Linked DNA regions of Homo sapiens. The protein of the gene in region 1 purifies or fractionates together with the protein of each later gene. This does not show direct contact. Each region holds a gene or a part of one and is shown in the gene's direction. Other genes may lie near its edges. The genes, in order: ADCY9, TMEM143, ALG5, DNAJC18, SMIM20, NFXL1 and SMTNL2.

The links.
Region 2: the proteins of ADCY9 (region 1) and TMEM143 purify together in Homo sapiens (affinity purification with mass spectrometry; one large-scale study listed by BioGRID and IntAct). This does not show direct contact.
Region 3: the proteins of ADCY9 (region 1) and ALG5 purify together in Homo sapiens (co-immunoprecipitation; 2 studies listed by BioGRID and IntAct, with this or other methods). This does not show direct contact.
Region 4: the proteins of ADCY9 (region 1) and DNAJC18 purify together in Homo sapiens (affinity purification with mass spectrometry; one large-scale study listed by BioGRID and IntAct). This does not show direct contact.
Region 5: the proteins of ADCY9 (region 1) and SMIM20 purify together in Homo sapiens (co-immunoprecipitation; one large-scale study listed by IntAct). This does not show direct contact.
Region 6: the proteins of ADCY9 (region 1) and NFXL1 purify together in Homo sapiens (co-immunoprecipitation; one large-scale study listed by IntAct). This does not show direct contact.
Region 7: the proteins of ADCY9 (region 1) and SMTNL2 purify together in Homo sapiens (co-immunoprecipitation; one large-scale study listed by IntAct). This does not show direct contact.

The regions. Positions count from the first base shown.
Region 1 is NC_000016.10:3,987,443-3,990,942, reverse strand, and holds part of ADCY9 (adenylate cyclase type 9), read left to right. Parts: intron 1-1,846; coding exon 1,847-1,949; intron 1,950-3,500. UniProt on the Homo sapiens protein: Adenylyl cyclase that catalyzes the formation of the signaling molecule cAMP in response to activation of G protein-coupled receptors.
Region 2 is NC_000019.10:48,336,441-48,339,940, reverse strand, and holds part of TMEM143 (transmembrane protein 143), read left to right. Parts: intron 1-3,500.
Region 3 is NC_000013.11:36,949,238-36,951,789, reverse strand, and holds the end of ALG5 (dolichyl-phosphate beta-glucosyltransferase), read left to right. Parts: intron 1-1,732; coding exon 1,733-1,848; 3' UTR 1,849-2,052; downstream 2,053-2,552. UniProt on the Homo sapiens protein: Dolichyl-phosphate beta-glucosyltransferase that operates in the biosynthetic pathway of dolichol-linked oligosaccharides, the glycan precursors employed in protein asparagine (N)-glycosylation.
Region 4 is NC_000005.10:139,422,526-139,426,025, reverse strand, and holds part of DNAJC18 (dnaJ homolog subfamily C member 18), read left to right. Parts: intron 1-911; coding exon 912-1,021; intron 1,022-3,208; coding exon 3,209-3,318; intron 3,319-3,500.
Region 5 is NC_000004.12:25,924,220-25,927,265, forward strand, and holds part of SMIM20 (small integral membrane protein 20), read left to right. Parts: intron 1-3,046.
Region 6 is NC_000004.12:47,887,084-47,890,583, reverse strand, and holds part of NFXL1 (NF-X1-type zinc finger protein NFXL1), read left to right. Parts: intron 1-3,500.
Region 7 is NC_000017.11:4,594,529-4,598,028, forward strand, and holds part of SMTNL2 (smoothelin-like protein 2), read left to right. Parts: intron 1-616; coding exon 617-799; intron 800-2,331; coding exon 2,332-2,449; intron 2,450-2,643; coding exon 2,644-2,795; intron 2,796-3,500.

The DNA.
Region 1 (3,500 bases):
CTGTCATCCCAGCTACTCAGGAGGCTGAGGTAGGAGAATCGCTTGAACCCAGGAGGCAGAGGCTGCAATGAGCTGAGATCGCAGCACTGCAACTCCAGCCTGGGCAACAGAGCGAGTCTCCATCTCAAAAAACAAATAAGAAATAAATGGAGCAGCACAGCTAATAGCAGTGTCGCTTCTGCCACTTGACTGCTAAAATGTGGCCTTGTGCACATCCTCTCTGCAGCTGCGTGGTTGCTCTTCCCTCAGTCCACACTCCCTGAGTCAGGGGAGGAGAGAGGGTCAGTGTCCTGGGACAGAATTATTTCTCTTCTGAGTCTGAGAATGTTGGAAGTTACTGGATACCTGTCACAGAAAGGAGAGTGTCCGCCGTGCTGCAAGGACAGGAAGGAACACACGTGATGAGCCGTACTTTGTGTGGGGGGCACATGAGGCACTTGACATATTTCACCTGATTTACTCTTTTTTTTTTTTTTTGAGACATAGTCTTGCTGTGTCACCCAGGCTGTAATGCAGTGGCGCCATCTTGGCTCATTGCAACCTCCATCTCCCAGGTTCAAGTGATTCTCCTGCCTTAGCCACCCGAGTAGCTGGGATTACAGGCACCTGCCACCAGGCCTGGCTAATTTTTGTATTTTTTGTAGAAACGGGGGTTCACCATGTTGGCCAGGCTGGTCCCGAGCTCCTGACCTCAGGTGATCCGCTTGCCTCGGCCTCCCAAAGGTCTGGGGATTACAAGGATGAGCCACCGCGCCCAGCCTCGTCTAATTTACTTCTGATAGTCACTGTATGAGGGAGAGAGGCTAACACAGCTATATTTGCTTTCTGAAATCATGTTAACGTTCCCTTAGTTTCTAGTAATTTTCTGCAGTATAGAAAGGATATTACTATTTGCTGGCAATTCATAAATGAATGAAAGAGTCATGGAAAGCGGGGTTGATTTCCCTGCTATTAAAATCACTGAGCTTTATCATTCTGCAGGTTTCACATGCAATCTGCATATGTGACAATAGCACCAAAATTACGCTAACTATAAACACAATTTTGTGATAACAACCTGTTAGCTTTTACGGTGGCAATTACTGTCAGTGCTCTGAATGACAGGACCGCCGGTTCTGAATTATGTTTTCGTTTGAAGCCTCCAAATCCATGTAAGTACTCTCAGCACAGTGATCTGCGTGTTCTTCACAAAAGATTGTTTCAAAGAACAGAAAAGCTGCCTTCATCTTCTCCTAATCCTAGACATTAGGAATGTGTTTTCAAAAACAAGCCTCAGCAGCTCACGCTGTCATCCCAGCACTTTGGGAGGCCGAGATGGGTGGATCTCTTGAGCCCAGGAGTTCGAGACCAGCCTGACCAACATGGTGAAACCCCGCGTCTGCTAAAAAATACAAAAATTAGCTGGGTGCGGTGGCAGGCGCCTGTAATCCCAGCTACTCAGGAGGCTGAGGCAGGAGAATTGCTTGAACCTGGGAGGCGGAGATTGCAGTGAGCCAAGATCGCTGCGCCATTGCACTCCAGCCTGGGCGACAGAGTGAGACCTTGCCTCAAAAAAAAAAAACCCCAAAAAACCAAGGTTCTGATGATGTGTGCTATAATCATGGTGGATGGTCATTCTTTAACGAAGGTGAAACACAAAATATGATTATGCTTTGAGGTGCGAAGGACTTTCCACAGATCTGTTTTAACAAGGGGCAGCTGAGTGGCGTCTGTTCCACAGGCGCTTTTAGACGCAGCTGTTGTAATATACCTAATGAGCAGCGTTTTGGTAGCTAATTATGATCTGAAAACATTGGCACAGTTATGGTGCTGGGTATTGATCGACTGCATTTGTTGTGTCTTCTAGCCTGATGAAAGATTACTTTTTTAAGCCGCCCATTAATCAGTTCAGCCTGAACTTCCTGGATCAGGAGCTGGAGCGATCCTACAGGACCAGCTATCAGGAAGAGGTGCGTTCATTTCTCCTTGCGCTTTTACTAAAGAATGTGTTTGTTGTTCTCACATGGTCATTCACTGTTAGTTTTGTGCTTTACCAAGGGATGGGAACACGAAGGCGAACATTGATTTCCCACACTCTGTAAACCCTAAGTGGCAACTGTACATGAAATGTCTCTTTGCAAAGGAGGAAAAAAACCCTTTCTTTAGTCCTTTGTCTTAAAGCGCAGCCTCGCCATTACTAGCCCCTTTCCTCTGCCGTGGCATCTCCAGGCTATCCCCAGCCTTGGAAGGGGCCCCCCCACCACAACCTGTCCTGAAAGGAAACCCCCAACCTGCCCTGGAAGGAAACCCCCCCACCTGCCTTGGAAGGGGCCCCCACACCTGCCCTGGTAAAGGAACCCCCCCCACCTGCCATGGAAGGGGTCCCCCACCTGCCCTGGAAAGGAACCCCTCCCCACCTGCCCTGGAAAGGAACCCCGACACCTGCCCTGGAAGGGAACCCCCCACACCTGCCCTGGAAGGGAATCCCCCACACCTGCCCTGGAAGGGAACCCCCCACCTGCCCTGGAAGGGAACTCCCCACCGACCTGCCCTGGAAGAGCCCCCGTCCCACCTGTCCTGGAGTCTTGGGTGAGACTCTTCTCTGTTGCCCTCCCTGCTTTCTTCCCCTGAGAAGGGCCCAGGAGGCCTTCACCTCTCTCTCTAACTCCGGCTCCATGTTCCCTCTCCCGCCCCCACCGCCTTAACCCCTTGTACTTGACTTCTCAGCCCATCACCCAATCCCACTTCCTCCAAGAAGCTCTCCCCGACTGCAGACTGGATTGTACTTCCCTTCATACACTTCCTTCTCCGTGTGTGCCCCATTTTGGAATCTTTCCGTGTGTGGTTCTGGATTCGTGTTCCTCCCTCCCTAGATGCTCAGCTCTGTGAGGTAGGACCCCCGTCTCTCTCCTCCAGCCCCTCCTTACAGCCTCCAGCACAGTCCCAACACCCATCTCTCTCCTCCAGCCCCTCCTCACAGCCTCCAGCAGAGTCCCAGCGCTCACAAGTGCTCCTTAGGGGGTTGCTGGAAGGAATAATACAAGAACCTAGAGCCTGGTTTGAATCCTGGCGGCTTCCAGACTGCATTCTCTCCTCTGGGCCCAAACCTAACCTCTGAGTGTTCCCAAGTCAAGAGTGGATGCCCTCCCCACCCGGAACAAAAGGGATTTCTCACTCTGATTCCCTTGGTTCCTCCAGCAGGTCTTCATTAAACTCCGTGGTGTCCTGGCTTGGGCTCTAGAGAGACCCTGGTGAGCCCAGTAGAGCCAGTTCATGCCTCGTGGGGTGGGAGGTGCCCCCTTCCGTCAGCCTCCAAGGGACAGTGAATATCCGTTAATGTCCCAGACATGGCTCCCGGAGTGGACTTGCAAGTTGGCAGTTGGCTGGTTGGTGGCCCGTAAGGCAAAATATCGTCTCATTTAATGCTCATAGCAATGCTGTAGGGAAGCTGATGATTATCCTCCTTTTACCAAAGAGCTGACGCTGAGCAAGGCTGAACAGGTGGCTGTGGTCCCATAGCC
Region 2 (3,500 bases), on another chromosome or scaffold:
CCTGGCCAACGTAGTGAAACCCCATCTCTACTAAAAATACAAAAATTAGCCAGGCGTGGTGGCGCATGCCTGAAATCCCAGCTACTTGAGAGGCTGAGGCAGGAGAATCACTTGAACTCGGGAGGTGGAGGTTGCAGTGAGCTGAGATTGCGCCACTGCATTCCAGCCTCGGTGACAGAGCGAGACTCCCATCCCAACACAAACAAACAAACAAAGAAACAAAAAAACAGTTGGCCCTCCCAGACTCCCTCCTGGCTGGTCCCCTCCTGCGCTTCAGTTGCTCCCAGATCTCTGTCTTCATTGCAAGCCCCTCCCCTAGTCCCCTAATCTGGCTTCTCCTGTTCCCTGGACACACCCAAGCCCATGTGCAGCGTGTCCCCATGAGCCCAGAGTCCAGCTGCCTCAACCCTCCTGCTCCTCTCAAGTTCCCCATCTCACCTTGGAACAGGCACTCAGAGCCCCACTGCGGGATAAGGGGTGCGGGGAGCAAGGTGCGGGATGCGGAGTATGGGGCCCTCTTTCTTCCAAGACACAGGGCTGCTCTGCTTCTGTGGTTTCCACAGGAGCTCTCTACTGTCCATGATCAGATCAACCAAGAAGCTCCAGGCTCAGCCTCCCGGCTGGGGCCCTCACTCTCACTGTAGGCCAAGCACAGCGTCTCCCCTGACATCTTCTCTTCTGGGCTCCGCATCTAAGGATGACCTGTCATCCCGCCAGTCACTGGCTAGACCCCCAGCCCACCCTTCCTGTCCCACCTCTGTGCCCCCTGCTCAGGCCCTCTTCCCAGCCTCCAGTTGGTCCCTTCCAGCCCATTCCCCATTCTACCCAGTCCTGCCCTGCCCCTCCTCTGGGCACAGCCTGGCACCAGGGACCCTGCTTCCCAGCCTCACTGGACACAATCCTTCCCCTCGAATCTGCGCCTCAGCTCCTCCTGCATGCTTGCGGCGCCCCCACCCTGCCATCCCTCGTTCTCTGCCTTTGCCTGTGCTGTTCCCTTGGACTGAAATGCCCTTTCCTCTTGTTGGGCTGGCCAACCCCTGCTCACCCCTCACCCTCAGCTCAGAGGCTGCCTGCTCTGGGAAGCCTTCCCGGATGTCCCAGGCTGGGGTGGTGCCCCTGTGGGTTCCTCCATACCCTGGGCTCTACTGTGAAGCCCCTTAGCCCAGCACCAAGCAGGCCCATGGGGCAGCCTGGGGAGGGATGTTGAACTGGTGCCCCTGAGATGCAGCAGCCCGATCCTGCCCTGGAGGGAGAGGTGTGGGGTCCCTGGACACAGGCAGTCGGTCTGTAATGGAGGCGGCAGCTGGCACAGCAGGAGCCCGAGGCTGCATCTGCTCGTCCGCGAGAGGTGATGTCCATCCTGAGCCTTGAGGATGAGGCAGTGAACATTTTCCAAGAACACACCAGGGGTGGTTTGGCTTGTGCCTGGGCCTGGAGGCCTGAGAGAGCAGGACCTGTTCAGGGTAAACCGGCTTTTTCAGCATGCGCTGCATTCACAGGGGAGGAGCAGGAGGTGACAGGGAGGGCCTCGTGTGCCGGGCCACGGAGCTTGGACTCTGAGAGCACTGGGGAGCCATGGGAGGACCATGAGCAGGGGAGGGGCAGGGGCAGCTCTGAACCTATGTGCAGACAAACTGGACGGGGAGACTGAGGCCAGGGAGGAGGCTGGAGTGATGCAGGCGGGGATAAAGTCTGAGCCAAGGATGAGCTGGGGAGCTGCAGAGGAGGAGACGGGCAGAGAGAGTCAGGGGACTGCAGAATGGGGTTGGGACTGACAGGTTGGCGAAGGGGGAGCAAGGATGGTGCCAGGGGCCTGGCCTGTGACTGAGTAGGTGGAGGGGCTGCCCAAGACATAGACCCCAGGGTAGGAGGAGCGAGTGCTGTATTCCTTGTGGGCAGCGGTAGTGCTGAAGGGACCCTCCGGGTGGCAGGGGGACCCCTCTCCAGGGAGACTCTGGCTTCATCTGTGTGCCACAGAGTGACCTGCTCCTTTAACTAGAATTCAGCTCCATCGGCTTGGCAGATACTGACACAAACCCAATGTGTTTTTCATACCACACGGTCCCTAACGCATGCTATTCCTGCATCTTGCCCTCAACCGAAGAAATGGCGATTCGTTCCAATGCAGGCACCTAAACTGACTGTGCTGGCCTGGTGAGAAGAGGGTACAGTCCACATGCAAGCGTGTCATTGGTACCTTGCAGGCCATTTCAGCGATTTTCTGGGGTGCGCTGACTTGAGAGGCATTTCACCTCAGGCCTCGGTGTGAGATGGGAACACCCTATGGGCACCCAGCACAGGGTGTGGGTGACTGTTCCATAGTAGCTGATGTTTGGTAAGTGTTTCTGAGGGGCCAGGCTTTGTCCCAATGTTTTTTTTTTTTCTTCTTTTTTTGAGATGGAGTCTCGCTCTGTCCCCCAGGCTGGAGTGCAGTGGTGCAACCTCAGCTCACTGCAACCTCTGCCTCCTGGGTTCAAGCCATTCTCCTGCCTCAGCCTCCCAAGTGGCTGGGATTACAGGCGCCGCCACCATGCCTGGCTAATTTTTTGTATTTTTAGTAGAGACGGGGTTTCACTATGTTGGCCAGGCTGGTCTTGAACTCCTGACCTCGTGATCCGCCCGCCTCGGCCTCCCAAAGTGCTGGGATTACAGGCGTGAGCCACCGCGCCCGGCTGTCCCAATGTTTTATTAACCGTGTATTGACTTCCTGAACCCTCCCTGGCATTGGCATTGTTGTACAGACAGTGCTGACTGAGGACTTAGGTCTTACCAGGGGCAGCCGGTAAGGGTTTAGTGGGTCAGGCAGCCAGGCCTGCCAGCTACAGGGTCCAGTGGCCCTGAGCTCATTTTGTGGCTGAATGGAGGAATCTGGGTACAGGTACAGGTTTTCTTTTTTTTCTTTTTTCTTTTTTTTTTTTGTGAGACTGAGTCTTGCTCTGTCACCCAGGCTGGAGTGCAGTGGTGCGATCTCAGCTCACTGCAAGCTCCGCCTCCCAGGTTCACGCCATTCTCCTGCCTCAGCCTCCTGAGTAGCTGGGACTACAGGCACCCACCACCACGCCCAGCTAATTTTGTTTTTGTATTTTTAGTAGATACAGGGTTTCACCGTGTTAGCCAGGATGGTCTCGATCTCCTGACCTCGTGGTCTTGATCTTCTGACCTCGTGATCCACCCGCCTCGGCCTCCCAAAGTGCTGGGATTACAGGCGTGAGCTACTGCGCCCGACCGCTTTTTTTTTTGAGACACAGTGTCACTCTGTCGCCCAGGCTAAAGTGCCGTGGCACGATCTCGGCTCACTGCAACTTCTGCCTCCCGGGTTCAAGAGATTCTCTTGCCTCAGCCTCCTGAGTAGCGGGAATTACAGGCACATGACACACACCTGACTAATTTTTGTATTTTTATTTATTTATTTTTTTGAGACAGAGTCCCACTCTGTTGCCCAGGCTGGAGTGCAGTGGCGCAATCCTGGCTCACTGCAACCTCCACTTCCCGGGCTCAAG
Region 3 (2,552 bases), on another chromosome or scaffold:
TAAAAGTGTTTTTACTCCAAATGTCCACAGTCAATCCAGAGCCATTTAAAAACTATATCTGTACATATATCCAAAAGTATAAAGATCCCAACTCTATAATAACTTGAAATCTATCATAAATCTTAATAATTCCTATTTTAAAAGGCTTAGACAGCTCTGGCTGTATAGAATTTTAAACATATTCTAGTTTTCTCCTTACCTTAGAATGAACCTAAATTAATTCACAGTGTGGGAGCAGTTAACATAATCAACTGGAGACTTTTTCGAAGTCCAGCTCTTCTGGTGAGAGTCCTTGTTGCAGTAAACCATTATTGCTCTGTAACCTCAGATGTTTAGGGACAGAAAAAGGTTAAGAACCAATCTCGAGATTATACAAACTGTATAGTCTAGGATGAATTCAAACCTCTTTACATCTTGCTGAATCAAACTGAGTTTACAAAATCTTAGCTCATCTCCACAGTAGCTGCCTAGAATCAAAGGGGATTGGGAAGCAGGTCAAAGGATCACTCAGGGGTATCATGATCAACTTTGTTGATTTGTGTTGATCTTTGGCCAACCTAGACTCTATGGGAAGATGAGGTGGGGAAAAGTAAAAGTCCATTTTATGTTTAGTCATTTGCTTATTTGCATTACAGAGATAGTTGTCTTGTAATATGAATTGTAGGTACCTCAACTTCCTCATTTGTGGGATGAAGATAATTTTTGGCCCTGATAAACGATAATGTCTCTACAGTGCTTTGGTGGTAATGTTTTCAGAAGAAAGCTGTCATATAAATTCAGAGCAGTGAAAAAGGTCTTCTTTAAATATAAAGTATAATTAAAATGATAATGAAATGTTAAACCTTCCTCCTGATACTTTATCTGCACGTATATACTATAAGTAATGGTTATAAGAATCTGCTGTGGCTGGGTGCAGTCACTCATGCCTGTAATCCCAGCACTTTGGGAGCCTAAGTTGGGAGGATCACTTGAGCCTAGGAGTTTGAGACCAGCCTGGGCAACACAGTGAGACCTCATCTCTATAAAAAAATTGTAAAATTAGGCAGGTGTGGTGCGTGCCTCCTGTACTCCCAGCTACTGGGGAGGCTGAGGTAGGAGGACTGGATCGTTTGAGCCCGGGAGGTCAAGGTTACAGTGAGCCATAATCGTGTCACTGCACTACAGCCTGGGTGACAGAGCAAGATCTTGTTTAAAAAAAAAACAAAAAAAGAATCTGCTGTGATATGTGGATCAGATATTTAATTAGGCTGGTGTTCTTGTGTAGCCCGAGACAAAGAGGTCTGGACAAAATTATCTTAAGTCTGATCATAGGCTTTATTTTTTATCATTAAGATTGGATTTATGTAGAAATAATCATATTTATCTGTTGTGCTGTATCTTTAGTTGTTTCATATGTAATTATTTTCAGTAATGAGCACTCAGTGAGTAGTTTTTTTATTAGACTTCTAGAGCCCTCACCATATGTAGTCCTTCCTTTCTATAGTAGGGCCGTATGAAATTTTCACTATTTAGATCCTCTCAAGTTTCATTTCACTTCAAGATGTTCTGTTTTTGTTTTTAGAGAAAACCACTCCACTCACTTCAGCTTTGAAATTGTTTAACTTTTTGGTCCATGATTTAAAAAATTAAGGTGCTAAAGGCTCACAACGATCATGTAGACTGACTTTAAACTGATACGTTTTCTGCTGAGTTTATTTAAGCTAATTTGTTTTTAATTATTTTTAAATCACAGGTTCTAAATTAGTTCCATTCTGGAGCTGGCTACAAATGGGTAAAGACCTACTTTTTATACGACTTCGATATTTGACTGGTGCCTGGAGGCTTGAGCAAACTCGGAAAATGAATTAGGTTGTTTGCAGTCTTCAGTTGTGTTCTTATGCTTCAGTGTCACATTTCATTTCATTTGAAACTAAAATTTTAAGTAAAGCTGAAATAAACTTCTTGTCATTGTCTGCCTTTTGATAATTTTAAAGAAATAACTTTCCATAAGTAAAAAATTATATATCTCTTTGGATATAAATGATTTTTAAAAGATGTTTATTTAAAAAGTCAGATTTTCTTTTGTTTGTTTAGCTTCATTATCATTATAATTCTGAGAAACATAATTTTTGTAGACAGAAGCTATTCTTACCCTAAAGTGCCTGCATAACTCTCATGAACTTAACTATAAACTACAATCATGTAACAGTTTTCAGAGATTTAAAAATAAAGCTAGGGTATAAGTTTAAATGTACATAAATTTATCCAAATCAAAGAAACCTATTTCAGCCTATGAAACTTTAGGAAATTATATGTTAAAGGCAAGAATACAGACTTAGTCACAAAGGTGTTCATTTCCTTATAGTCTTACTCATCTCTAGCACTGGAGGCCAAGGTGGGAGGATCACCTGAGCCCAGAAGTTCAAGGTTACAGTGAGCTATGATCGTGCCACTGCACTCTAGCATGGATGATGGAGGGAGTTCCTGTCAATCAATTTTATAATATTAATATATTTACATAGTAACATCAGAAGCCTCTTTGAGATACTGCAAGAACTAATAGCAATTACAAA
Region 4 (3,500 bases), on another chromosome or scaffold:
TCTCCAGCCCCCAGCTGTGCATAATTTTGACCAAATCATTTAGTCTCTCTGACCCTGTTTCCTCTCCTGAAAAATGGGGCTGTTAATAATACCTACTTCACAGGGTCACTGTGAGGATTAGATATTTTTAAGTGCCTTATAAATAAGTAACAAAATGCCTATTATTGTTGTGTAAAATAGCACTTACAAAGATAGAAGATAGGAAAGTACCCCCCAGCAAGTTGGAAGTTGGTATAATTCAATGCCCAGGAAGTAAATTGAATTTTATGAGTTGCTATTAAAAGATACCAGTGACACAATATGGTATTGGGCACGGAAGCAGACGTGAACATGCCAGATAGGATTCACGGCCCTAATGCTCTCTCTCTTCTAGCCTTTCGGGGTTCTCTCTCACTAGTTGCAAAGGACTATTTAAATGAAGTCAGGAGAGCTCAGCACGCTTTAGCTCCAGCTGGTTCACTTGGCTTGCCTATTGTCTTATTTTTCTACTGGGTAAAATAGGCCAATACTCTATCCTTAACAAACCTAGCTGGGAACAAGGACCTTGAAAAAGGCAAGGAAGGGTCAGGCGCGGTAGCTTACGCCTGTAATCCCAACACTTTGGGAGGCCAAGGTAGGTGGATCACTTGAGTTCAAGAGTTCGAGACCAGCCTGGCCAACATGGTGAAACCCCATCTCTACTAAAAATACAAAAGTTAGCCAGGCATGGTGGCGGGTGCCTGTAATCCCAGCTACTGAGGATGCTGAGGCAGGAGAATCGCTTGAACCCAGGAAGCAGAGGTTGCAGTGAGCCGAGATCACCCCATTGCACTCCAGTCTGGGTAACAGAGCAAAACTCCATCTCCAAAAAAAAAAGAAAAAGGCAGGGAAGGAGTGTTTGCCATATCCCATACCATGTATTTCTTTTCCAGGAAATATTCATATGTTTTCAAATGTGACAGATGACACTTACTATTACCGTCGACGGCACCGACATGAGAGGACACAGACTCAGAAGGAGGAGGAAGAAGAGAAACCTCAGGTACCTAGGGAGGGAGGAGCACTGCTGCCCATAAACAGTTGTACTTGGCCAACCTTGATGGTACATGGTCAAGTTTTAGAAGTTGAACCTGAGATATGTTGCTTTAGGAAAGATGTGCTTTAGGAAAGCAAAAGCAATGGTTAGAAGAGCTGGAAAATTGGCCTAAATAGGCAGAATGGTATCCCCTCCCTCTGCCCATTCTTGGGTGGCTCTCCCAGAATCTCAGCAATCTGTGGGGCTGACTTCATCAAGGCTTTTTTTTTTTTTTTTTTTTTTTTTTTTTTTTTGAGAGAGGGTCTCACTGTCACTCAGGCCGGAGTACAATAGTAGAAACACAGCTCACTACAGCCTCAAACTCCAGGGCTCAACCAATCCTCCCACCTCAGCCTCTCATGTAGCTGGGACTATAGGTGCGTGCCACCATGCCCAGCTCATTTTTTGTAGAGATTATTTCTCACCATGTTTCCCAGGCTGGTCACAAACTCCTGGGCTCAAGTGATCCTCCTGCCTTGGCTTCCCAAAGTGCTAGGATTACAGGCATGAGCCACCGCTCCGGCTTCATAATTTTCTTGGCTGCAGAAAATAGGAATCCTCTTCAAAATATTTAGAACTAAAGGGGGTTTAAGGTAAGGGATCAAAAGAGTCTCATGAAGCTCAAGGACAAGAAGCACAGCTGGGCCTCATGACAGACAGGAACAAGGAACTGGGATACTGTCAGGCTCCCAAGCAGCTGTGCTCTGCAGGACTCTTTGGGCCCAGATTGTCTCCAGTTTTCCTGCCACTCTTTGCCTCTGTTTTGTTTTCACCAAGCAGCTTTGCTTGTTCTACTTCCCCTTGCAAATAGCCAGTCTACAGTGCCTGAGAGTGTGTGTTCTTCCTTAAAGTGATGACCCAGAAGTGAAGGGTGATGAGTTTCAACCCCAAATTCCTAGGAGAGAAAACGTGATTACCTCTGCCAGAGTTGGATGTCCCCTGAGTCCAATCAGCTGTGGCCAAGCATGATGCTAACCTGGCTCCTAGAGCCCCACTACTGTAAGAGGCACAGTCTGGGCAGGTTTACCTAGAGATGTTTGCTTCATTGGTCTTATTAATGGGGCTGCAGGGGGATTACTGGGTGTCAATCCAGGTTGTTGTTGGACCTCCTTCAGCCTGCTCAGCAGAGAGAGTAAAGGTTATTTGGTATAGATTGAGTATCCCTTATCTGAAGTAAATTGGACCAGTAGTATTTCAGATTTCAGATTTTTTTTTTTTTTTGGATTTTGGAAATTTGCATTATACCATTATATATTTGACAATTCCTAATCTGAAAATCTGAGGCTGGGTGCTATGGCTCACACCTGTAATCCTAACACTTTGGGGGAACTGAGGCAGGAGAATTGCTTGAGCCTAGGAGTTTGAGATTAGCCTGGGCAACATGGCAAGACCTTGTCTCTACAAAAATTTAAAAATTAGCTGGACACGGTGGTGTGCACCTGTGGTCCCAGCTTCTCAGGAGGCTGAGGCGAGAGAATCATCAGAACCCAGGAGGTCAAGGCTGCAGTGAGCCATGTTTGTGTCACTGTACTCTAGCCTGGGTGACAGAGCAAGACCATGTCTCAGAAAAAAAAAAAAAAAGGAAATCCAAAATGCTCCAATGAGCATTTCCTTTAAGTGTCATCCTGGTACTCAAAAAGTTCTAGATTTTGGAGCATTTGTGATTTTGAATTTTCTGATTAGGACTGCCCAACCTGTACTTCTCAGCTGAAAGTACAGCCTTCCCAGAAAAGCCTGGGGCTTTGTGGATCCTCCTATGCAGTGCATTGATAATTTGTTATTTTCTTTGGAGCAACTATCTTATTTTCAATAAGCTTTATATTGATAAAGAACACTTACAGGCCAGGCGCAGTGGCTCACACCTGTAATCCCAGCACTCTGGGAGGCCGAGGTGGGCAGATCACGAGGTCAGGAGATCGAGACCATCCTGGCTGCGGTGAAACCCTGTCTCTACTAAAAATACAAAAACTAAGCCGGGCGTGGTGGCGGGTGCCTGTAGTCCCAGCTACTCGGGAGGCTGAGGCAGGAGAATGGCGTGAACCCGAGAGGCGGAGCTTGCAGTGAGCCGAGATCGCACCACTGCACTCCAGCCTGGGCGACAGAAAAAAAAAAAAGAACACTTACAGCAAGTTTTTATTTTTTTTTCTTTTTCAGACTACATATTCTGCATTTATTCAGCTACTTCCAGTTCTTGTGATTGTGATTATATCTGTCATTACTCAGCTGCTGGCTACTAATCCCCCATATAGTCTGTTCTATAAATCGTAAGTCTGGTATTTCTAAATCTTTCTCAGTAACAGTCTGGGGGTGAAAGACTTGAAGGTTTTGCTGATACATTACTAACATTTCATTTCACCTTTTGCTGTAGAAAACACCGATTTGATGTTTAAAGGAACAGCTGGGTAGTCATGGTGCTGAGACTCAAAAATACTGAGGCAGTCTCCTG
Region 5 (3,046 bases), on another chromosome or scaffold:
TGAAAAAAATTTTATATTTGCTACTTTTTAAAAGATAGCTTCTTTGAAATAATCACCATGGAAGAGTCAAAATGGTGTTGGACTTTTCGTATGCATGTTGTACAGTTATGTGGTTTTTGTTAGTGAAAAAAGAAACTCAAACTTGGGGAGGCTGAGGCAGCAGAATCACTTGAACCTGGGAGGCAGAGGTTGCAGTGAGCCGAGATCACGCCACTGTACTCCAGCCTGGGTGACAGAGCAAGACTCTTTCTCAAAAAATAAATAAATAAACAAAAGAAACTCAAACTGACAAAAGATCCAAGAACAGTGCAGTAAATTCCTATATTGTCCTTCACCTTGATTTACCAGTTGTTAACATTTTGCCACATTTGCTTTCTCCCCCTATATATAACATACAGATACATACATATATACAGATATAGTTATATGTACTATATATTATAATTATTACTGTTATTTTGTTGAACCATTTGAGAGTAGGTCAAAGACATTGTGAGCTTTCATTCCTAAACACTTCAGCCTGTATTTCCGAAGAACAAGGGCATTCTCTTATGTAATCACAATGCGGTTTTCCAATCTAAGAAATTTAACGTTGATACAGTGCTATTACAGTTGGAGCATTTCTAATCTGAAAATGGAAAATGCTCCAAAATCTGGAATTTTTTGAGTTCCAAAATGACACAAGTGGAAAATACCACACATAAGTACTTAATATAAATTTAGTTTCATGCACAAAATTATTAAAAACATTGTATAAAATTATCTTCAGTCTATGTATATAAGATGTATGTGAAACAAATGAATTTAATGTTTAGACTTGGATCCCATCCCCAAGATATCTTGTTATATATATATGTAAATATTCCAAAATCTGAAAAAAATCCTAAATCCAAACCAATTCTGTTCTCAACCAATTTCAGATAAGGGATATTCAACTTGTATGGAATATACAGCCCACGTTCAAATTTTGCCATTTGTCACAATTCAAGTTGTGAGTTGCTTTTATTTTATTTTATTTTTTTATTTTTCTTTTTTGAGACAGAGTTTTGCTCTTGCGCCCAGGCTCGAGTGCAGTGGCATGATCTTGGCTGACTACAACCTCTGACCCCCAGGTTCAAGCAATTCTCCTGCCTTAGCCTCCCAAGTAGCTGGGATTATAGGCGCCCGCCACCATGCCTGGCTAATTTTTGTATTTTTAGTAGAGATGGGGTTTCGTCACGTTGGCCAGGCTGGTCTTGAACTCTTGACCTCAGGTGATCCACCCGCCTCGGCCTCCCAAAGTGCTAGGATTACAGGTGTGAGCCACTGCGCCCGGCAGAGTTGCTTTTAAGTATTTATTGGCAGGAAGAAATAGGGAGGTAGGTTCCCAAGGTCATACCTTGCACCAGCTTTCATTTGCTTTTTTATTTTAGGTTTCTGTCTGCTGGTCCTCCACTAGAGCACCCTCAACGAATAATCCTGAGACTGCTGAGGGAGCTGGGGCTTGAGTATCCTGCAGTGTTTGCATTGTTGTGAATGTTCAAGTAACAAGTCACACAGTCGATGTATTTTCCGGTGTGGACATTTAATATAAGGATATGTTTTTGTTTTTAAAGACTTCAACATTATTAGGTAGATTCTTTTACTATCGTACAAAAAATCAGCCGGTCTGCATGTATTACTAGTTTTAATAATACACTTTGGCCCCTGGACCAGAGATAACGTCCTCAATTAAAACTACAAATCACACCACTGCCTTAGCACCAGGGGGCAGAGTCGGGCTTGCTGAGACACTGGAGTGGGGAGTTTTTTAACCCGGTGTGCCATATTTGGGTTTAAATTATTTCACTCCTGATAGAAATGTGCTCACTAGTGAAATTGGTAATAAGTTTATCCTGATTTGTTTACATAGTTAAACCCCTGACTTCTGCCATTTCCCTTTTCCTGAGGTTTATATACATTTGCTCTTTTCCAAAGATAGGGAAATAGAAGCTTACTGTCAACCTCAATCAAGATGCACTGCTAAATCGTGAGGGACTCGTTTCTGTTTTCCTTTTAGAGTATTCTGCATTCACAGATAAAGTGTCTTTGTGTTACATCATGAATTTACATAAGACTGCTTTGGCCTTAGAGTATTTATAAAACATTAATGGATTAAAGAACCAGGGGATGTAGATAGGATGCTAATACCTGGTTATCATTTGGTAGGAACTGGCTCAGCAAAGTGGTTTAAATTTCCTGACCAAGCCAAACTACAGAGGTGTTTGCATTAGGACAAGGATTATAAAGAGATTATGGTCTATTTAAAATAAATCTTCAGCCTTGCTTCAGCCTCATTAGCAATTAGCAAGAAAGTGTGAAGACAGGGATTTCTTTCTTTTCATTTGGTTCTCCGTTGCATCATAAGAGGTTAGAACCCAATTAGGCATTCGGTCCTTGCCACCAAAAGTCAGCTTCCTTTGATGCTTGGCAGTCTGCCAGCTTCTTTTGCCTTGCAGTACCTGCCTCTGGACAATGTGTTTGGTACACCAGGATGTCTGATTTTATGAAATCTCTAAGTCTAGAATGCTTTCTGATAGTGATTTTTTAAAACTCAAATCTTCCCTCTTCCATAGTATCAGAAAATAGACCTTTTAGTTAGATACAGAAAATTAATTCTATTTTTGTTCCTGCCAAGACTGATGACTGTGGGCTTTTACATGTTGGTATCTTCCAAGAGCATGTTCGAGACATCCATACTTTGAGACTTACATGTCTATAGGATGGTGGGGCTCAGTTCTACAATGATTTAATGTCTTAAGAAATGAGGACACCTTTTGTGTTATTTCAGAAAGTCTAACACTTTAGAGGCTCCATAATATCCACTCTAAATGGAAGAAATCTTTTGATATATCTTGAGAGAATCTTGGTTGCCATTCATCCGCTACTTTTCAGAGAGGAGCAGTGAAACCATCAGGCCGCTTGTTGCCTGGAATAGGCCTGAGTATCCTATGTGTTCTCTCCATCCCTCTTAGACTTGGATATCAGGATTCCCATAATCCCCATTGCCCAGTGTTTTATTTGCCAC
Region 6 (3,500 bases), on another chromosome or scaffold:
GTTTGTAGTGATGTAGTGGTTTTTTTTTTCATTGTCAATATTCAATATAATGTATTGAAATAGCGTTTTATAGTCATTATCTCACTTGACTCTCTTAACCTGGAGAAGAAGGTAAGGCAGTTTGCCAGTGTCTCTATTTTATAGGCAAAGAGGTTGAAGCTTAAGAGGGTTCAGTAACTTACTCAGGGAAATGTCTAGTACATTTGAACCCAGGATTTCTGTATATAAAAGTATTGTCCTTTCTATAACACCATATTGTTTTCCCACTTCCTGACTTTCCCCACATAATTTTTTAATCAATGAAGGTGTTCATAGCATTTTGAACACCTTATTTATTCTGAATTTTATATACTTATTTGTAGTTAAATCTAGTAAAGGATTAGATATGTCCGAAGCTGGTGATTTTTAAACATTTTGATGTCATGACCCCTTTACAATCCTTTGGTCCCCAAAGGGCTTTTGTTAATGTGAGTTTTATTCATTGACATTTATTGTATTTGAAATTAAAATAAAATGTAATAATATTTATTATTTTTTAAAAATAGCAGTAATAAACCCATTATATCTTAATACAAATAATGTTTTATGAAAAATAACTATTTTCTGAAAAAAGTAGAAAATTTTACATTTTTACAAATGTCTTTAATGTCTAGCTTAACAGAAAATAGCCGGATTCACATATATGCTTCTGTATTCAGTCTGCTATGGACATCACTTTTCACTAGCTTCTGGAAAACTATGCATGTGAGACCTTGCAGACCTCCTGAAAGGGTCTCAAGAACCACTAGGGTTCCTGGACTATACTTTGAGAATTATGTTATAAGTTATTACTAGACATTAAAAACTGAGTTAACTTCACTCATTTGGATTATGTTGATATGAAATGGAATCTACTGAGATATGGTATACAGTATTGGAAAGATCGTGGACTTAGAGTAAGAAATCCTGGATTTAAGCCTAGACTCTGCCATTTAGTAGTTTAATACCTAGAACAAACTACTGAACTGTTTCTCAGTTGATCTCCCTATCCTTTCAGAAATCCTGCAGCATATAGGGATATGTGGAACAGGCCGGGAGACTATTGGCCCAAGGTTAATAGAACTAGTCGCAGAGTCAGGATGTGAACCCAGTGTTTATGTTATTTCCATTATACTACATTCCTTCCCCATTAGGAAAAGTGTCAGATTCTATTTACCCTGTAGACATTTCCTGTAGGTGTTCTTTGATTTGTCAGTGAAGTTTAGAAATAGTTTTTCAGGTATGCTCTCACCAACACTAGAAAGATTTTATTTTCTTTTATAGTCATTACATCACTGACCCATTGAGTTTTTGCAGATTTTTGCAAACTACATCTCTGTGATATAACTGGTTTAACAGTAGTAAATCTAATATTATGTAATTTACCACATTAAAAGACCAAAGGAGGAATGAGATCATCTTGATAAATGTCTAACATCTATATAAGATAAAAATTTAATTGGAAATAGACATATCCTTAACCTGATAAAGAGTATCTGCAAAAAGTTTAGAGCAAATATCATACTTACTGGAGAAGTGTTGGAAGCATTTCCCTGTCTCATATTTTTGTGAAGCAAAGCCCATAAATATTTCAGTATTTGTCTCTAAAAGATGGATTCTTAACCTAAATGTAGTTAACATATTTCTTCATATCAGCAAACATCTGGTTTTCAAATTTCTTGTTGTCTCATAAGTAACTTCATTTTTTACATCAGTTTATAGACTCAAAAACCTAATAAAATTGACATGTTGTAATTGGTTTTGTCTCTAAAGTCTTTTAATTTATAATTTCCATCCTCTATCTCCTTTTTTCCCCTTATGACTTATTTGTTGAAGAAACTAGGTTGCTTTATTTAGTTTCTCAGAGTCTGAGTTTTGCAGATTGCATCTCTGTGGTATTATTTAACATGTTCCTCTGTCCTCTATATTTTTGATAACCTGTTAATTGGATCTAGAGGTTTGATCAGATTCAGGTTTTGATATTTTTTGGTAGAGTGGTGTTTTTTTGTTTGTTTTGTTTTTATAGATTTCTATTAATCCTTAGAAAAGCTTATTAGTCACAACAAAATTTTCCTTGATGTAAAGTATGTGGAAGATGCTGTTGTGCAACTGTCAATATTTGTTTCATCTACAGTTATAAAAGAATGTGGAATCATAATTTCATACCATTTTTCCATCATTCTAGAATCCTTCATAATCAGAATTATACAGTAATTTATAGGGGGAATATACTAACTGCATGTTTGTGTTGTGGGTATGTGAAAATTTGATTTATAGTTTTGTTTTGTTCTTTGAGACGGAGTCTCTCTCTGTCACCAGGCTGGAGTGCAGTGGCGCAATCCCGGCTCACTGCAACCTCTGACTCCCCATTTCAGGTGATTCTCCTGCCTCAGCCTCCCGAGCAGCTGGCATCACAGGCATATGCCACCATGTCCAGCTAATTTTTGTATTTTTAGTAGAGCCGGGGTTTCACCATGTTGGCTAGGATGGTCTCGATCTCCTGACCTCGTGATCTGCCTGCTTCGGCCTCCCAAAGTGCTGGGATTACAGGCATGAGCCACAGCGCCCAGCCGATTTATAGTTTTTTTTTTTAAATTCAGGATCATCTGTGTTTATAGTTTTAGAACTACCCGAATCATGCCTATTTTGGCTATTAACTGGTATTGGTCAGTATAGTTATAGTCTCCCTATGCTATTTCTTCATTTTGAAAGTATTATGGAAGCTCTTTTAATTATAATAAATTCTGTTGGTCAGTAGGGAGACTGTTTAGAGAAATTGTCCCTTATTTTCAAGATGTAATTTAAATGTGATACTGTTGTTTAGAATAACAAAAAGGTTACGTTTGATAACAAAAAGGTTCCTCTGCTGAAGATGAATGAAAAATTGTCATTGTTAAGTATAGAAACAGATATAATATGCCGAATGAGAACCGACTTAAATATCACTATCAACTTTAAAAATACAACTTGTAGTCATTCTTTAGGTAAAATAAAAATAAAACTTGATATGTGGGTTAGGATAACTTGACTTGCATTAACATCAAGAATATATGTGTCAAAACACATTTGGTGTTTTGTATAATAAATGTTATGTTTGACCCTACGATGTTTTACCTCTAATCTTCTCTTTTTCTGTGTTCATTATTTGAATTATAATTCTTAATTTGTGTTTGTTTTAGGGAACTATTTTGAACTTCTAGAGGCACTTAAGCCAGGATATTGTCCATCTTTAATCTTTTTTTTATCAGGTTAACTCCCGGTCCATGTTTTGCTTGGTCCTGACACCTAGGCAACAGTCTCTTTAAGATATTCATTTCTTCATTGAAAACTCTTCTTCCTTTATTATTTCATTTCTGATAGAGTTCCTTACTGGGAAAACTAGAGTGGAAGAAAGCCCTTAAGATGATGACAGAACCTCTTGGAGCGAACTTTATAGCCTGCTTTAAAGATTTCTTTGATTTTGTTTTTTTATATTTTTGCCA
Region 7 (3,500 bases), on another chromosome or scaffold:
GGAGAGGACAGGAGCTTTGTCTTCTTCCATCCCAGCCAGCTGGGGTCCCTCAGAGCCCGGAACTTCCTGCCCACGGGCTGCGAGCAGGGGCAGGTGAGCAGGTCCTTCCCTGTGGCACAGGCCTCCCCCCAGCCAGCCAGCGGGACTGTGATTGGGGATGGGGGTAGGGTAGCAGGCTTGGCTTTTTTTTTTTTCTTTAATAATAAAAGGAGAATTGTGACTTTCTGGCAAACCGTTCTGGGGAAAACAAAGGGGGTCTTATCGCATGGTGGTGGAGGCAGGAGGCCTGGTCCCTCCGGGGCTGGTTCTGAGCACACCTCCTGCCTGAGGAGGGGGTCCCTCTGTCCTCCCCAGGCATTGACACCTGCAAAGGGGTGGTTATGTCCAGATCGGGCCCAGCGTCTCCTGAGTTGAGCCTATTGGCCAGTCCCTCCAGCCAGCACAATTCAGAAAACCTGTCAAACCAGCTAGGGACCGGAGCAAGGGGGCCTCTTCTCTGAGCGCCCATCACGGTGCAGGCTGCCTTGTCCACACTCAGTGCAATGGAGACCTTGGGGCCTGGTGAGCTAGTGATGGCTGCTGGGCCCAGGTCCCAACTCGGCGATTCTTTCCTCAGCCCACCGCTGGTGACACCACCCCAGTCGCCCGTGTCCCCGCAGCCGCCAGCCATAACTCAGGTCCATCGGCAGGGGGAGCGTCGCAGGGAGCTGGTGAGGTCGCAGACGCTGCCCCGCACCTCGGAGGCGCAGGCCCGGAAAGCATTGTTTGAGAAGTGGGAGCAGGAAACGGCGGCCGGCAAGTACGGATGCCCACTCACAGACAGGCCCGGCCCCACGGTGTGCCCAGACCCAGACGGGGCTTGGGTGGGTGCAGCAGGGCAAGGTTCAGCCCTGTCCTGTTCCCCAGGGCGCTGTTGCCCAGGACAAGATCTCTTGGGCAAGGCACAAAGTTAGGGCTGGGCCACAGGGCAGCTTGGGGGGACAGAGGACCCCAGTTGTTGGGGGAGATGGCTGTGAGGCAGGGAGCCAGGAAGGCTTGGTGAGAGCCCCTCTCTCCTCCTCCATTCCCGAGGCCCCCTGTCCTGTCTCTGGTGCCGCCAGGCTGCCCTCACACCCACATTCCCCAGGGGTTGTGGCTCCTCTGGTTTCTGGGCATGACCGGGGACTGGATGGGGACTGGGATTCCTGGCCAGAGCTGGGAGCCCCAGCATGGGGTTGGTCTTGCCCAAGGACCGAAGGTGATGCCACGGGGCCGAGTGGCCTCCAGCCTGCTACTAGGTCTCGAGCGACGGCTCCTCAGGCTCCAGCCCACCTTTGCATATTCAGCCAGTCCTCGTGTCAGTGCATGGTATTGATGCCTGCTGTGTGCAGAGTGTGGCCCAAGCGTGGTATTGATGTCTGCTGTGTGCAGGGTGTGGCCCAAGCGTGGTATTGATGTCTGCTGTGTGCAGGGTGTGGCCCACGCGTGGTATTGATGCCTGCTGTGTGCAGGGTGTGGCCCAAGCGTGGTATTGATGTCTGCTGTGTGCAGGGTGTGGCCCACGCGTGGTATTGATGCCTGCTGTGTGCAGGGTGTGGCCCAAGCGTGGTATTGATGTCTGCTGTGTGCAGGGTGTGGCCCAAGCGTGGTATTGATGCCTGCTGTGTGCAGGGTGTGGCCCAAGCGTGGTATTGATGCCTGCTGTGTGCAGAGTGTGGCCCAAGCGTGGTATTGATGCCTGCTGTGTGCAGGGTGTGGCCCAGGCCTTGTGGGATAATGAAGACGACAGCCAGTCCCTGCTCGACTCTAGTGAGGGGGACCGACCCCGGACATCTCCCCACTGGCCCCAAACAACCTGGCCTAGGCCATTAGGGACTGTCCTTGGGGCCCAGAAGAGGAACTCATCCCTCCTGGCTAGGAAAGAGCCATCAGGGAAGGAGGCACCCCATTAAGAGGGGAGCTCAGAAGGAGGAGTGGGAGGAAGGAGCTGGGAAAGGTGTTCCAAAGCAGAAGGCAGGGGCCCAGGGCCATGTGAGCCAAGGTCTTCTGTCTCAGGATTCCCAGGTGACCCCTGCTTCCTGGATGGGGAATAAACAGGGGACCTGGAGGGCTGTAGGGGTGTGGACGGTCCTGCCACATACCATCAAAGGAGGCTGTGTCGCTGGTACATGGGCTGTGCCGTGGACGTGGGCACAGCTGAGCCCACGTGTGCCACCAGCATCTCCCCTGGGTGAGCAGAGCAGGTGGGAGCACCCTCCTTGGTGGTGCCAGGACAGCCTCCCCTGCCCCAGACCCGCACTGGGAGATGGCAGCTGGAGGGGCCCCCGCAGCAGGCCTGCCGTCTCTCCGCAGGGGGAAAGGCGAGGCCCGGGCCAGGCTGAAGCGGTCGCAGAGCTTCGGCGTGGCCAGCGCCAGCAGCATCAAGCAGATCCTGCTCGAGTGGTGCCGCAGCAAGACGCTGGGCTACCAGGTGAGCCCCGGCTCCCCTCCGGCTGCTGGGACGCCCCAGCTAAAAGCTTGACCAAGCGTCGCCCCTGTCCTTGTTCTCCCGCCTGGGCAGGAGCCCGCTGAGGCTGGGGTTAAGGGGTAGGAACCACGGTAATTATGCCTTCCGAGTGGGTGCCCAGCTGCCCTCCCGCACTGACCCCACTCACCCTGTTGCAGCACGTGGACCTGCAGAACTTCTCCTCCAGCTGGAGCGACGGCATGGCCTTCTGCGCCCTGGTACACTCCTTCTTCCCCGATGCCTTTGACTACAACTCCCTGAGCCCCACGCAGAGGCAGAAGAACTTCGAGCTGGCTTTCACCATGGCCGAGTGAGTATGGTGGCTCCTGCTGGCTACCAGCCCCAGCCCAGTCCCTGAGCCCAACTTCTTCCCCAGGTGGGGCATGGGGGCGAGTGGGATGTCGGGCCGCTGTCTGCAAAGCTGAAGGACCCTGGGGCCATGTGGTCTGTGTACCTCTTGTGCAGATGGGAAGACTGAGGCCTGGAGAGGGATTTTCCCAGAGTCACACAGCACTCAGTGGTGGAGGGGGACTCCGTTCCTGGGGACCTGCCCTTTTTGCTAGGTGCCCAGCTTCTGAGGTGCACTCTGGGAGACCAGCCACAGACCAGGCATGAAGGGCAGCAGGACAGGGTCCCCCAAAGCTCTGAATCTGTCCTCTCTGGACTGATGGAGAGATGCCGTTGCTTGCATGAGCCACAGCTGCCAGTTAGCAAGGAACTGGATATGACCTGGGCCACTTAAAAGGAGATTTTTGCTTCCAATAAGATTTTCCTTCCCGAAATGGTGTTCTGGCATTTATTGTGAAATTGCCTAGCTTCTTAGGTCCCACCTCTAGGGTGAAGATTTGGGGGTGGCTCTGGGGTCAGGAGGCACCTGGAAAGCCAGTTCGGGATTTGGTTTTTGGCCGAGGGCCTCAGGAGAGTTGGCAAAGTCAGGTCTGTCTGCCAGGGCTCCAGCGGCGGACGGGGGCACAGTCAAGAACTGGGCGAGGAGAGTTTAATAAAGGGACCCTTT